Linked DNA regions of Homo sapiens: region 2 is linked to region 1. A link means that fine-mapping ties the variant in region 1 to the expression of a gene that starts in the linked region. Tissue or cell type: whole blood. Region 1 holds a variant in brackets; the other region holds the start of a gene. All regions are shown on one strand. Distances are between the middles of the regions.

What was found. PIP is the estimated chance that this variant, and not a neighbour inherited with it, causes the effect.
Region 2: it holds the start of VPS41, and the variant in region 1 is fine-mapped to the expression of VPS41 in whole blood (INTERVAL, PIP 0.94).

What each region holds. Positions count from the first base shown.
Region 1 is chr7:39,516,881-39,525,097 of GRCh38, forward strand. LOC105375237 (a long non-coding RNA gene) reads right to left here and starts at 5,622. Exons shown (of 4, transcript XR_927183.2): 1 at 5,581-5,622; 2 at 4,767-4,856. The variant A/G (reference allele first, on the strand shown) is at 4,383.
Region 2 is chr7:38,905,729-38,913,945 of GRCh38, forward strand. It overlaps VPS41 (VPS41 subunit of HOPS complex), which reads right to left and starts at 3,463. Exons shown (of 29, transcript NM_014396.4): 1 at 3,426-3,463. The coding sequence starts at 3,446. RefSeq lists an enhancer at 3,471-3,570.

The DNA of each region.
Region 1 (8,217 bases):
AAGCCTGCTCTCGCTCACACACATGCACACACACACACACACAGACAACAGCTTGAATGTGGCAATTTTTAAATAGCACATTATGTTTAAGACTTTACAGTTATTAACAGAACCAGAGAATATATCTATCAAACTATCAAAATGCCATTTTAAATTGTAGTGATCCCTTTAATGTCTTCGATGTTTTCTAAGAACCCTTTAATCCCACATGGATGGTGCCACCTGTGCCATCCCCTGAGAACAGTAACTGCTTCCACTCTACAGGACTCTGTGCAGACAGAAGTGAGGCATGAGTTCCTGGGGGTCCTTGGGATGCCCCTGCCCAATTTCCAGCCCCAGATCTCCTCCCAGATGGTGGTAGTCTATAGAACAATATTAATTCATAAGGGTTGGTGCCACTCAAAATCTTTCCCAAAATCTACTCTGGGAGAAGTGCCCACAAAGATCAAGGCCCTTGTCAGAGAGGTGACTGACACAGAAGGAAGTTGCCTTTGAAAGGAGAATAAAAGACATGCCTTTCAACACTGTCTGCAGCAGCTTTGCCAAGACACGACACAAAGTCCAGATCACCTCACCTCTTCCGGAGTGCCTATGCTACCTCACCCTGGCTATTTAACCCAATAGACTTAGAGAGGGCAGCTGATCACAACCACTTCAGGACGACATACTCAGAGTGCTTTTCTGGACCTGCCACCCTAGTGTGATGCTGTCTCTTTGTAACCATCTAATAGCAAGTTGCCTCAAAGGGAACCATTGTGCAAAAGTGTGAAGGGACTGGCTGCTAAAATAATAACCTAGCAGACACGACCACCATGAGGGAAACGGCTTCGCCTACGGTGCATTCACCGTGTGGTATGTGTACTTCTACTCATTGGAACTGAGCTGGTGTTGTCCAGTCATTCTGCTCCTCATAATAAACAAAGAGTGCCAGGGGCTCTCCAGACCCAAAGGGAAGAGCTTGCAAGCTCAGTTCCAATGAGTAGAAGTACACATACCACATGGTGAATGCAAAGTCCCCTGTCCATTAGAAAGGCTGGATCTGAGGACAGTAAGTAAGGGGCTGTCAATATAGGCAAGTGATCCCTCTTTCCCAGTGCTGACTAAGGTGGGGGCAACATCTGCCTTGCATTACATTCATTTTGCTGCTGAGAAACTGACACCCAAACCGTTTACACCACAGCACATCAGCGGCGACACCAAGACTCACGTTTGGTCTCCTAATACCATGTTCATTTTTCCATGTGATTTTCCCATCTTAAACCTATTTATACTTCAGTCTAGATGAGCCCATGTTTATAGAATCCTTTTGAGGGCTTGAATAAATGAAAACCTAGAAAGGTGGAGTATGTTTTCCTGTAGAATCACTGGCTATCTGTGGGAAGAAGAGATATTCTTTAACACTTTTTTTTTTTCCCTCAGACAGGGTCTCGCTTTGTCACTTAGGCCAGAGTGCAGTGACATGGTCATAGCTCGCTGCAGCCTCAAACTCCTAGACTCAAGCGATTTTCCTGCCTCAACCTCCTGAGTAGCTAGGAATACAGCTGTGTGCCACCATGTCCAGATAATTTTTGCATATTTTTTCTTTTGAGAGACAGAGTCTCACTATGTTCGTTACTCCTGGCCTCAAGTGATTCTCCCACCTCAGCCTCCCAAAGCACTGAGATTACAGGCATGAGCCATTACACCCAGCCTCATCACCACATTTCCAACCTTAGGATCAACTGTTGAAAAACTAATAATACCCCTTCTTTGATCTTACAGTTCTTACAGGCTGAATGAATTCCATTTAGCAGCAAAATATCTTAATGGTTTCACATGAGAATGTTGAAATAAATGAAACAAACACAGAAGGCCTAGGAGGAGAAAGCCTCTCCCGGTTGGCCAAGGAACGACCTGATCTCCAGGTTACGTGAAGCAAAATGCTTAGAACTAAGCCAGAGACATTGGGACACTTAGCCATTCCCACCGCCTTCTTCTCTCCCTTGTCTCATGGAGGTCCTTGAAATAAGGAGGGAATGGAGTGGGGACAGAAGGGATAAATTGCTTCATTCTAAGCCCACAATGCAATTCCTGGTGCTACTGTACTTGGAATACTGCACTCAGGAGTTTCCATGATCAGCCTCCCTAAGACAGCAGAAAAATTCCATAAACAGGGAATGGCAGCAACATCTCGCTCTATGTGGATGCCTGGGTCAGACTGGGTTAGACTGGCTGGTGGATTGCTGACATAAGTGAATTACTTGGCGCAAACCTTGTATCACAAATGGCCCGTAGTGATGCGTATTGCAAGAGATTTATGTAAATTGAGCAAGATACTTAGCTATTGGTCTGGTTTTTTAGTAGACTTGACTTTCAGAAAAGAAAGAGCTGATGGTAGAAATCTCAGGCACTTTTTTAAACATCTTTTCTTTCTCAATCTACCTCCGAAAGTCGCTTTCCATAAAGCCTCCCTCTCAATGTCCCAGTAACTCTGCCCAAGGAAGGAGCCTCCCCTGTGCCTGACTCCTTGCAGGAACTGTTGCCATTCTTTAATTTGGCAGCTTCTGTTTCCCAGGCTCCCGGGGTTTTACGTTTACTTGCAGCGAGGCTTTTTACTTCACTTCCTGTTCTTTCTCCTGCTATCCCCTTAGAAAGCCGGTGGAAGGATTTTATTTTTATTCTTATATCTATGGTCTCCATTCTGAGATTTTATCCTCCTGGTAACAGCCAGAGAGAAAAACACTTACGAGCACATTGGAAATGTCTAGGAAAGGGGAAGTGCATTAAATAATAAACCCCAAACTGGTGGGAAGGATTTTGCACTGTCTACTCCCGAGGCAAGGAATTCTGGGAGATGTTTTCTCGTTTGGCTACCTTTGTCCAGTCTCCATTCCTGGATACCTACAAAGGTGAGAGCAAGACTAAACGCATTCCAAAAAGCAATTTCATGTGATATTTGTTTTCACTTTTCTTTAGAAAAACTATGGGGCCTTTTGTTCACTTGAGACCACAGTAAGGTTACTGTGTCTACCTTTAGGGAGTTCAACTTTCCAGGGAGGGAAACTAGACAATGTGACAGGCGCAATCCTAGCATCTGTTCGTAACAGGGCATAGGAAGGCAAATGCTTGTCCTTCCTTCCTGTAACACAGCCATTAAACCAGGAGCATCGCCCTTCCCCGGCCCTCAGGTAAGAGGACCAAATACCGTAGCCGTTTCCAATTTCAGTCCTTTAGCGCCACCTGGTGCTAACTACTCTATCACGCTTTTATCCAATAACTACCTTTGTAAATTTCCTTTCAAAAGTTCTGGCCGGGCGCGGTGGCTCACGCTTGTAATCCCAGCACTTTGTGAGGGGTCAGGAGTTCGAGACCAGCTTGACCAACATGGTGAAACCCTGTCTCTACTAAAAATACAAAAATTAGCCGGGTGTGGTGGCGCGCGCCTGTAATCCCAGCTATTCAGGAGGCTGAGGCAGGAGAATTACTTGAACCCAGAAGGCAGAGGTTGCAGTGAGCCGAGATCATGCCGCTGCACTCCAGCCTGGGTGACAGAGCAAGACTTTGTCTCAAAAAAAAAAAAAAAAAAAAGTCCTAACGACACAAATGTTTGATTTTAACACAGTGCCAAGTTCACATACGTAGGCAAAGTCCAGATTAAAGGACAATTTTAGCATTGAGTTCATTTAGTGAATCACAGGGCCTTGGCACACAGCAAACATGAGAGCAATCTTAGTTATCTCTATTGTCATGGCTGTTGTTACCAAAAGAATTCAAAAGAGGGGAATTTAGGAAAATTTATAGTGTTTAAGATATAGTAGCTTTTTCAAAATATCAATGAAGTGCCGTTTATGCGGCACAAGTAATATTTCCTTGAAAATCTAATAAATATAGTGTTACTTATTAAAGAGATTCTACCTTGAGTAATTAAACTGCTTGAAGAAAGGCAAGATTTCTCAACTTGAACTTTATCCATAACTCAGGGTTAACCAATATGCCCAGTTTGTTTCTTTTTATATTTTAGAATATTCCTGCCAGACATGGTGGCTCACGCCTGTAATCCCAGCACTTTGGGAGGCCAAGGCAGGCGGATCATGAGGTCAGGAGTTCGAGACCAGCCTGGCCAACATGGTGAAACCCCTTCTCTATTAAAAATACAAAAATTAGCAGGGCGTGGTAGGGCGCGCCTGTAATCCCAGCTACTCTGGAGGCTGAAGCAGGAGAATCACTTGCACCCGGAGGCAGAGGTTGCAGTGAGCCGAGATCATGCCACTGCACTCCAGCCTAGGTGACAGAGCAAGACTCTGTCTCAAAAAAAAAGAATATTCCTATAAGACAGTCAATGCCCATCCTTCCCTGAGAAAACACAATAAATAATATAACTTTTTATTGTTTCGTAATTATCT[A/G]GGTGCCTTGAAGTTATCATTCTGAAAATAAAAGTATATAGTCTGAAGGGCTGCACCTATTCGAGATGTATTTGTTTTATCATTATACTTGTTCCTAAAATTAAATGAGCGAAATGTTTCTAAATTAAAGCCAAACTATGCTACACAGGAATGGACTTTGTAAGTGAATCCATATTTGTAAATTCTCACACATAATCAGTCCCAGGAACTCCAGGCCTGAGAGAAATTACTGAAGGCTCTGATCTGAGCTAACCACTGTGAAAATAGGAAAAACTCGAAAAATAGGTTCTAGAGTGGTGTGTAGTTCCAAATGGAGCAGGAAAACTAAGAGGGGATTGGTTAAACAAATATGATTATAATCAAAATAACTTTTTAAGCACTTACTATTTGCCCAGCATTGTCCTCAATGATTCACATGTGTCACTTCGTTTAATCTTCACAACTTCATGAGGCTGTTACAATGCCTGATCCTTGCTGCAAATTAGCTCATACACGGTTAGTAAACAAGGGAGTGATGTTTATAACACATCTTGTAGTTCATATTTGATTCTTCCCAGTACATTAATGTTTTAAAATGATCTCATGGCCAGGCGCAGTGTCTCATGCCTGTAATCCCAGCATTTTGGGAGGTTGAGGCGGGTGGATCACCTGAGGTCAGGAGTTCAAGACCAGCCTGGCCAACATGGTGAAACCCCGTCTCTACTTAAAAAAAAAAAATTAGCCAGGTGTGCTGGTGGACGCCTGTAATCCCAGCCACTTGAGAGGCTGAGGCAGGATGAGGCAGGAGAATTGCCGGAACCCAGGAGGCGGAGGTTGTAGTGAGCCGAGATTGCGCCACCGCACTCCAGCCTGGGCAACAAGAGCAAAACTCCATCTCAGAAAAAAAAAAGAAAAAAAAAAGATCTCACAAGTTTTCTCACAATGAAAGAAGAAGAGGCATGATAATAAATGAAGACTTAAAAAAAATTAAAAGTGCATCGAAGTACTTTTTCTTAGTGCAAGTGAAGGCTGGTTTAAAGACTTCAAGAACCACTAGGTCATGGCCAGGCATGGTGGCTCATGCCTGTAATCCCAGCATTTTGGGAGGCTGAGGCGGGCAGATCACTTGAGCCCAGGAGTTTGAGACCAGCCTGGCCAACATGGCAAGACCCTGTCTCTACTAAAAATACAAAAATTAGCTTGGGGTGGTGGTGCACACCTGTGGTCTTAGCTCTTCGGGAGGCTTAGGTGGGAGGATGGCTTGAGCCCAGCAGATCGAGGCTGCAGTGAACTCTGATGATGTCACTCCAGCCTAGGTGACAGTAAAACCCTGTTTCAAAAAAAAAAAGAAGGAAGGGAAGGGAGGGAAGGGAAGGGATGGGGAGGAAGAAAGAAAGAAAAGAAAAGAGAAAGGGGGGGACGGAGGGAGGGAGGCAGGAAGGAAAAGAGAACCACTGAGTTTTCTGTTATGTATATCCATTTGGCAAAGCTACAAGTGTTGATGAAAAAGCTGTGAAAAAGTTAGCTTCCGTATTAAAGTGGTAGATTAGTGATGATTAGAAGCATGCCCTCCAGCACCTTCAACTGAGGCACAAGCCCAGTGGTGAAGGCTGCAAACGGTTGATTGCCTGAGATTCCAGCTGCCAATTCCTGCATAGAACCGTGCAAGTACTTTCATCAGGAGTGTTACTGTTTCTGTGAGTACTCTGATTACACAGTTCCACAGGTTTCGTGTGGTTTTCCCAGCACTATTTTTCCCATTGGTCCTGTTATTTTTAGTGCATGATGTTTTTATAATTAAAAAATAATAATTTTTTTTAATTATACTTTAAGTTCTAGGGTACATGTGCACAACGTACAGGTTTGTTACATAGGTATACATGTGCCATGTTAGTTTGCTGCAGCCATTAACTCGTCATTTACATTGGGTATTTCTCCTAATGCTATCCCTCCCCCAGCCCCCCACCACATGACAGGCCCTGGTGTGTGATGTTCCCCTCCCTTGTGTCCAAGTGTTCTTGTTCAATTCCCACCAATGAGTGAGAACATGCAGTGTTTGGTTTTCTGTCCTCGTGATAGTTTGCTCAGAATAATGGTTTCCAGCTTCATCCGTGTCCCTGCAAAGGACATGAACTCATCCTTTTTTATGGCTGCATAGTATTCTATGGTGTATATGTGCCACATTTTCTTAATCCAGTACATCATTGATGGGCATTTGGGTTGGTTCCAAGTCTTTGCTATTGTGAACAGTGCCGCAATAAACATATGTGTGCATGTGTCTTTATAGCAGCATGATTTATAATCTTTTGGGTATATACCCAGTAATGGGATCACTGGGTCAAATGATATTTCTAGTTCTAGATCCTTGAGGAATCGCCACACTGTCTTCCACAACAGTTGAACTAATTTACACTCCCACCAACAGTGTAAAAGCGTTCCTATTTCTCCACATCCTCTCCAGCATCTGTTGTTTCCTGACTTTTTAATGATCGCCATTCTAACTGGTGTAAGATGGGACCTCATTGTGGTTTTGATTTGCATTTCTCTGATGACCCGTGATGATGAACATTTTTTCATGTGTCTTTTGGCTGCGTAAATGTCTTCTTTTGAGTAGTGTCTGTTCATATCCTTTGCCCACTTTTTGATGGGGTTGTTTTTTTCTTGAAAACTTGTTTAAGGCAGAACACATTTTTTTCAGGGATGAATAGATGTTATATGATGTTATATATAACAGAAATGTATGTCATCATCCCCATTTTACAGCTAAGAAAACAGGCACCAAGAATTAAGTGATCTTTCTAATGCTACACAGCAATTAAATAATGAAACCATAATTTTAATACACTTTGCCTTCAGATTCTGCCTTCTGATGGACTAATATGATATTTTAAATGAATATTAACATATCTGGAAGTTTTTAAATGTGTCCACAAATGCTTTGACTCTTCTCCCTTCAAAAGGTAGATCCACTTCCTAACATTGGCCTTAGCCATGATTTCCTGGATATGACCCCAAAAGCACAGGCAAGAAATGGAAAAATAGAACAAGTGGACTATATCAAATTTAAAAGCTTCTGCACAGCAAAGGAAACAATCAACAGAGTGAAAAGGCAACACACAGAATAAGAGAAAATATTGGCAAGCCATGTTTTTGATAAAGTGTTAATATCTGAAATACATATATATGGGACTTCTTCAGCTCAAGAAAAAAACCAAATAACTCAATTTAAAAATGAGCAAAGGACTTCTATAGATATTTCCCCCCAAAGAACCCATATAAGTGGCCAACAGGTATGTGAAAAGATGCTCAACATCACGAATCATCAGAAAAATGCAAATCTAAACCACAATGAGATATTACTTTATAACTATTGGTATGGTTTGGCTGTGTCCCCACCTAAATCTCATCCTGAATTGTAATCTCCATAATCCCCAAGTGTTGAGGGAAGTACCAGGTAGAAAGTGATTGGATCAGGGGGATGGTTTCCTCCATGCTGTTCTCATGGTACTGAGTGAGTTGTCACAAGATCTGATGGTTTTATGAGGCACTTTCCCCTGCTCTTGCTACTACTCTCTTTCCTGCTACATGTGAAGAAGGTCTCTGTTTCCCCTTCGCTTTCCATCATGATTGTAAGTTTCCTGAGGCCTCCTGGCCATGCAGAATTATAAGTCAATTAAACCTCTTTTCTTTATAAATTACCCAGTCTCTAACAGTTCTTTATAGCAGTGTGAAAATGAACTAATATACCTGTTAAGATAGCCATTATTTAAAGAAAGAAAAAGAAAAAGAAAACAGCAAGTGTTGGTGAGGATGTAGAGAAATTGGAACCCTTGTACATTATGGGCAGAATATAAAA
Region 2 (8,217 bases), 610 kb before region 1:
TATGCCAAGTTTTCTAAAAAGTTCAATAGAACAGTTATTTTCTCCATTTTTGGGGGTTTTTTTGTTGTTGTTGTTTGTTTTTGAGATGGAGTCTCCCTCTTGTCACCCAGGCTGGAGTGCAATGGCACAATCTCGGCTCACTGCAACCTCTGCCTCCTGGGTTCAAGTGATTCTCCTGCCTCAGCCTCCCGAGTAGCTGGGATTACAGGCGCCCACCACCATGCCTGACTAATTTTTTTGTATTTTTAGTAGTGACGGGGTTTCACCATGTTGGCCCGTCTGGTCTCGAACTCCTGACCTCAGGTGATCCACCCGCCTCAGCCTCCCGAAGTGCTGGGATTACAGGCATGAGCCACCGCACGCAGCCCTATTTTCTCCATTTTTATACACTTTTAGCTTTAAAAAAATGGTATAATAAAGCCCTACTACCGTCATCAGATTTCAATGGCTTCCTACTGTGAAATGCAAAAACAAATCAGAGAAAAGCCTAACCATTTTTAATCTATAAAGGATAAGATTAGGTACAATTACTTACTTTCTTTTAAAAAAAAGAACTGAACAATTTGTGAATGTGTCTTTCAGCCATTTACAACAGACTGCTGGGTTTTTTTTTGTTTGTTTTTCGTTTTTTTTTTAAACAGGGTCTTGCTCTGTTGCCCAGACTGAAGTGCAGTGGCACGATCATGGCTCACTGCTGCCCCGACCCTCTTGACTCAAGCAATCCTCCCACCTCAGCCTCCCGAGTAGCTGGGACTACACACCACCATGCCTGGCTAATTTTTGTAATTTTTGTAGAGATAGGGTTTTGCTATGTTGCCCAGGCTCGTCTCGAACTCCTGGGCTCAAACAATCGCCCCACCTTGGCCTCCCAAAGTGCTGGGATTACAGGTATGGGCCATTGTGCCTGGTCCACGACTAGTCTTTTTAAGATACTGACACCACTGGAGAGGAGAATGCCCACTCCAACTACATATTGGCTGTTAAAGCATCAAAGTGGAATGGTGGCTTGAGGGAAAATCATTAAAATGGAAAGGGCTAATTCTACTTCATAAAGTAAAAAAACTATTTAGATTTAGGTTCTTACATATATTTTAAAAAGGTAGGGTATTCTAGTGAAAAGTCATGAGCTATGGAGACAGAGGACTGGAGATTTATTATATTATAGATATAAGCCTGAGCACGTTACTCAAGTTGCCTGAATTTCAATTTGTTTATCAGTAAAAGTCAATCATTTAACACAAATTTATTAAGTAACAAGCAATATTCTAGGTATTGGACATACAGCAGTGAACAAATCCTTGTCAGGATGTTCCAAGCTCTGTGGTAAGAGGTACACAGAAATATACAGGGAAAAAAAAAAAAACAAATTTTATAATACAGTATGTCAAACGGTGATGCACATTATAGGGAAAAATAATGCAGGAAGGTTTCAAAGCATGGTCAGGGAAGGTCGCAATGAAAAAGAACACTTGGACAAAGACATGAAGGAAATGAGGAAGCCTGTAAATATCAGGGTTCCTCAAAAAGGAACAGCATGAGCAAAGAGGCCCTGAGATAGGAACCTGCCTGGCTTTTTGAAGACTAAGAGAGCCAGTACAGCTGATGCAGAGTCACAGAAGGGAAGGAGAGTAGTGGGAAAAATGAGGTCAAGAAAAGGTGGCTAAGGGCAGCTGGGTCAAGGTCCTGTGGGACAACCAGGCTACCGTAATGGCTGTGGCTTTTCCTCTGAATAAGATTAGAAGCCCCTGGAAAGTCTAGAATATCAGAGGTGTTTCACCCATGTATGAGAGTAAACATTTACCTCATAGAATTCTTTTGGGAAGACCAAATGCAATATGGAAGGGTTTTTAAAACTAGAAAATAATGTACAAATGTGAAACATTATTATATCCCTAATTTTGTATGTGTCATTTTTATATCAGACAACTTTGTTAAATTCTTCTTCTGCACTAAACAGTGGTAAATATTTCATAGGTTTTTTTCAATGGAAGAAAAAACAATGGTTTTTCTAGGAGCAACTCTCTCCATTTCTATTCCACTATATCTAAGAACATATGAAACTCAGTTTTTTGCTTTCAAATCAAACCATAAAACAAACATTTCAACATGAAATAAAGATGCACAATGTGAAAAACAATCTCACCCTTATTCAAAGGAGCAATGGCAGTCATGAAATGATATGTTCTTAATGAGTGTTTTCCTTTGAACTGCTAGAATGGAAATAGGAGTCTCTAGTGTTAGATAAGAGACTTTGTTATCTTGTTATCACAAGGACCAGCCAAACCAAATTTCTACCTAGTCAAACGTCTCAATTATTGGCATATATAAAATATATACAGAACAAATTTTCACTATGAAGTAAAAACAAATGAAGTATGTTGAAAATAGTAAAAATTATTGAACTAGGTAAATGACTCTTATGATACTAAACAGCCCATCATCAAGTCACTGTTTAGAGACAATGACTGCAACTGACAGCCCTGTTAACTTGTGAAGAAAAACAGTATCCAACTGAAATAACACTGGAAATGGAAACTTAAGTTATCTCCCCCAAGTTCTAGCCTCTTTTTTGGTCTGCTTCTCTTTTTTGTCTTTTTTATTTTACTTCGTCATTTCATAAAATGTGTGATTACCACTACTGCTATATGAAAATAATTCATATTCCCATCACCAATTTCTACCCTAAACTTCAGTGCCACGTTGCCAGTTGTTGACTGGATACTACCAGCAACAAATAATCCCATTTAATTTTTACTAAGCCCAACAGTTCTAAGTACTCTAACTTTGTGTATAAACTCCTCTCTCCATCTTAAACCACCCTCTGAGGACGGCCTTATTATTACCCCCATCTCACACTGGAAAGTTAAATAAGTAGCTCAAAGTAGCACATTGGGTAAGAAAAGGAACCAGCACTTGGACCCCAGGCATTTTTGCTCCAGAACGGATGCATTTAATCCCTGCTGCACCGCAACAGTGCTCCAGCTCTGTACCTAACTCCAATAGATACAAAACAAAACTCATCGTCTACTCTCTCCTAGTTCTTATTGTCCTACTTCAAGTGGAAAGCAACTTAAATTTCAGTCACCCGGCCTCTCTTCCTCCTCCCACAGGCAGTCAGTCCCTGAGGTAGCCGGGCCTGCCTTCATGCCAAAATTTCCCTGGGCAAAGGCCACAGGGATGGGGCCCGAGGAAAGGCAGCCCGAACGCGGGGGTGTGTCAGAGCGCTTTCCCTAGGTGCCCTCCCGGGGCTGGCATCCTCTCTGCTCCCCGAAACCAACTTTCGCCATCCCACCCCGCCCTGCCGCGGACCTGCCTTGCGCTATTCCAGCAGCTCCGCACCTCCACCCACTCCACTCCACCCTCCCCAAACAGCCCACCCTAGTCTCTATATCCCTGTGCCCTCAACTACCACCTGCACCCTTTACCTGCTCCTCTGCTTCCGCCATGGCGCCACGGGAGAGTCACCTGACAGACCCGGAAATAAGAGGAAACCACACACTTGGCCCAGGGCCTTCTGGGAAATGTAGTTTTAGCTTCATCTGAGCCTGGAAATCTCTTCTAGGGGACGGACCTGCTAGGGTTCATTTCTGCTGCCAATTCTCCAAACTCAATGGAATTCTGCTTTGAAGGATGTGAACATAACCATTGCTAATACTATAGCTTATTTTATTGTTGTTCTTGTTTCTCTAGTTATTCTAGTGTTTATTAAGCACTTACTATGTCATGCCCTGGGTTTATAGCTTTGCATAAATTATCTCATTTAATCCTCACAGCAATTCCTACTATCATCCCCATTTATAGGGGAGAATACCGTAGCTCAGAGGTCATGCAGCTAGTAAGAGGCAGAACTAGTAATAGAATTCAGCCCTGCCTGATGCCAAAGTCTCTGTGATTGCCAAATGCTGCTTACTCTAAAAGTGTTCTTGTCCTTTTTTCTCTCTCTTTTTTAAGTATATTCAGTGAATATAAAGCAGTCTTTGCAGTGGAGAGTCAGAGAAAATTTATACGCCAACAAATAATATCATTATTTTTGCTTGCTACTTTGTCTTCTCCTGTCATATGAACATTGATTTAAAAAAAATCTCTGTTGTTTAATAAATTAATTGTTAAACTTTTGTTGAGGATATTCAATAGGTAAATGTTCAAGTGAAGACACAATATGAAGTTGTCCTTGGTCAAAATCTGCACAACCACTGTATTACTTCCAGCCTTCAGAATGACTGATTCCTTCTCCATGTTTCTGAACATTATGAATTCTGTTTCTTAACCCTCAGGAATCTGCAGCACCTTGTCCAAAGACAGACATTTTACAATTTCCATTCACTGGAGTAGCTGGTGACCAGCAGAGGGCATTGCAAATGGCAGCATGTGGTGATTGCCTCAGTACCTTTTTTGACTCCCTGTGCCTCATTGACTCTGACCCAGTAGGAAGTCATGGACTCAGTACTCTGTCTGTAGCTTGCTCAACCCATGATTCCTCAATGGCCCAGAAGCCAAGGTGACATCATCTCTGAGACACCTGTCTTCTCCCCAGGGCCTAAACAGCCTTACCTCCATCTTCTTCCTCCAAGCCTTGCTGGGGTTCCTCTTCCAGTGGGCTAATCACTCAGCCGACAGGATAGACCACCCTGAGGCATTTAAATGTCTATAAGCAGCCAGGTGCAGTGGCTTTCACCTGTAATCCCAGCACTTTGGGAGGCCAAGGCAGTCAGATTTCATGAGCTCAAGAGTTTGAGACCATCCTGGACAACATGGCAAAACCCTGTCTCTACAAAAAATACCAAAAATTAGCCGGGCATAATGGTGTGCGCCTGTAGTTCCAGCTACTCAGGAGGCTGAGGTGGGGGTTAAGGCTGCAGTGAGCATTGATGGTGCCACTGCACTCCAGCCTGGGCAACAGAGTGAGACCCTATCTGAAAAAAAAGAAAAAAGAAAAAAGAAATCCATAAGCAAGCACCCAATGCCCTAAGTATAAACCTAGGGCAAGTATAAACCTAACCCAAGAGTTTCTAAAATCTCTTGCAAAGCAGCCCAGGGCCAAACATTGCTCATGATGAACTCCAGATCCCAGAAAAACTTTAATACAGACCAAAGAGACTGTGGAAGCCCTCAGTCGAGTATCCACGGGAAAGAGAAATAAAATGAGCTCTTCCACTTTTCTGACTTTCCTCACAAACTCCAATTTTCTCTTTTCTGTTATGAGTGACAGCCACCCATAAACCTCTAGGACTACAGCCTCTCCAACTGGGCAATCTCCTCTTCTATGCTGAATGGATGAGATTGGGATGAAGAAGGAAAATAAGGGATTATTACCACTGTCTTAACCACAAGGTCATTTTTGTTTTATGGTTCCATTTTATTTTGGTGAGAAGTCAAGCAGCCCAAGCAAGCAAAGCTGAAGGCCATCCACTCTGGGCCTTCCTGGCCTTTCTACTTTTCTGGAATGAGAATGTTTATTCTCTTTCTCAAGAAGGGTGTTATGGGTCTTATTAAAGATATAGCCAGACTTTATAGGTTTTCCTCTGCTCATTTAACCGTAGAAACTCTCAATTCCCCAAGTTTGTTCCGCATTCAGTATACTCTCTTGATTACAATAAAGTATTATGAGCCTCTTTCCTTTTGGAGAGACTGGAAAAGTGAAGAGACACAGGTATGGAAAGGTGAATTAGAGGAAGAAACCTACTATGAACTAGCAGGTTCGTGCTGGGACAGTGGACAGGATGAAATTCACATGTGACCTCCAAATCCCATTTGCTCATGTGAAGTGAGAGTTTGAGGCTCTCTTATCTAGGTGGTCTTGTATTCTCCAACTACTCTAAGTGTAGTCCAAAGACTACCTGGGAGCTTGTTAAAAATGAAGAATTTGGGGCCCTTTGAGAGATGTATTTAACCACAATCTGGATTTTAATAGTATCCCTCAGTCATATGCATATACTTTCAAGTTTGAGGAGTAGTCAGCCTAACAGTCACTGATTCTGTGTCAAATCACCTGCTCAGTCCACCCTCTCCCAACTTCAAGATACGGAGGTAAAGGGCTGGGCGCAGTGACTCACGCCTGTAATCCCAGCACTTTGGGAGGCCAAGGCGGGCGGATCCCCTGAGGTCAAGAGATCGAGACCATCCTGGTCAACATAGTGAAACCCCGTCTCTACTAAAAATACAAAAATTAGCCAGGCGTGGTGGTGTGCGCCTGTAATCCCAGCTACTCGGGAGGCTGAGGCAGGAGAATCGCTTGAACTCGGGAGGCGGAGGTTGCAGTGAGCCAAGATCACACTACTACACTACAGCCTGGTGACAGAGCAAGACTCTGTCTCAAAAAACAAAAACAAAAACAAAAACTAAAACTAAAACAAAAATGCAGATGGAGGTAAAGGTAAGATTCAACTTCTCATTCTCAGTCTATAGGACCTAAAATTGTTAATAGACTTCAGAAAACAGACCTAAGACCTTATATTTGTAGAGTGGCTCACTGGTTTCAAGGATCTGTCTCATATGTTTGTTTCGTAGGTCTGAAACAGTTTACTAACTCAAATTATAGCCATTTTATTCGTGACAATAGCATTATTTCATTGCTTAAACAATATGAACGGCTTTAATATTTTCCATTATTAAATAGCATTTATAAATTCAGGAAACTTGAAAAATCGGCAAAGTGGACAAAGTTAAAATAATTCACTCTTATGCCCTTGCTAATTAGGGGATGTGTTGTAGATTCTTTTCCCAATCTTCAGCTTCCATTCCTTCTTAGATTGCTACCTTTCTCAATCTACAGGTGTGACAGCTAATGACAAGCAAATTTACACCACATTACACTACTAATTCCAAGCTACAATCTTAGCCTTTATTTAATTAACTGTACCAAATAGCTAAAAGAATATTGATGTTATCTTTAGCAAATTTGGCCAGCCTCAGCTTATTTTGCAGTTTAGTTTTTCCAAAACTGTACCTACTGAAACCTGTTACCTTCTAATATTCTAAATGTCATTTTAAGATATAGCTTATTGGAAATTTCCCTGAGCAACCACATTAGATTTTCTTAATAACATTTTTCTAATTACAAAAGTACTATGTGTTCATAATAGATAACTGGAAAAATACAATAAATTATAAAATAAAATTCTAAAACCACTCATGATTTCTCCACTTAGATTATGATTGTTGGATATATGCCTTTCTTTTTTCTTCTCTTTTTTCTCTCTCTTCCTCCTTTCCCCTCTCTGTCTCTCTGTATTTATTTAAAAACTTGTCCAACAAAGATCATATTACCAAGTTTTGTCATTTTTTTTTACTTAGTCATATTTCAAGATTGTTTCCCAATAACAATCTTGTAAAATATTCTTCTAAAACATGATTTTAATAAAACATGATTTCACATTATAATTCCATCGTATGAAAAGTAATGTATATAATCATTCTATTTTGTTGTATACTTTAAGTACATCTAATTAACATCCCTGTGCATAATTCTGGAAAATGCTATAATGCAAGGTGGTATCAACTGCAGGAATAAAGATCATCCAAATGAGAAATGCCATTGAGGAGTTATTCAGAGCTTACTCTAGAAAGGGAGTCAGCCACCAGCACTTGCGCTGTGGCAGAGACTCAAACACAGGCACAAGAGTGGGAAGGTAGGAAAAGGGAAGGCTTCAGGTAGGCCCTGGTTGGAGGCTGCTGGCATGAGAAAGCTGCAGGTGGGGTAACCAGAAGTGGGGCAACCTATGTGATTGGTAGGGGTGGATATTTGGTTTTCTCTGGTTGCTCTTAGTTGGAAGTGGGAGTAAAAATTAAGGAAGTTGTCAACTACCAATAAAGTCCTGGTCATTTTAGGCTGATTGTTTCAGAGGTTATAGTTAAGGTTCCTGGATTGTTACTAGAGATGGCAGTTTTGACTGTCAGGCTAGATTCCTGGGTTTTCTATTGTGGACAATGGCTTGGTTTCCTGGGCAATTGCTGCAGCTTGCTTCAGACTGTGGGTCAGAGTTCTATTTTAATATCTGGTCTGGCCAGTGCCCCTTTATATATTCAGTCTCTCACAATTTATTCTACAGTGAGCTATATATGAGAGCTCTAAACCCTCCTACCATCAAACATTAGATATTATCATTTTTTACACATTTCATTAATTTAGCTTGGGGAAAATAGTATTAATATTTTAATTTTTGTTTTAACTGTATGTCTTTGATTTCTGATGAGGGGATGTTTTTCATAAATTTACTG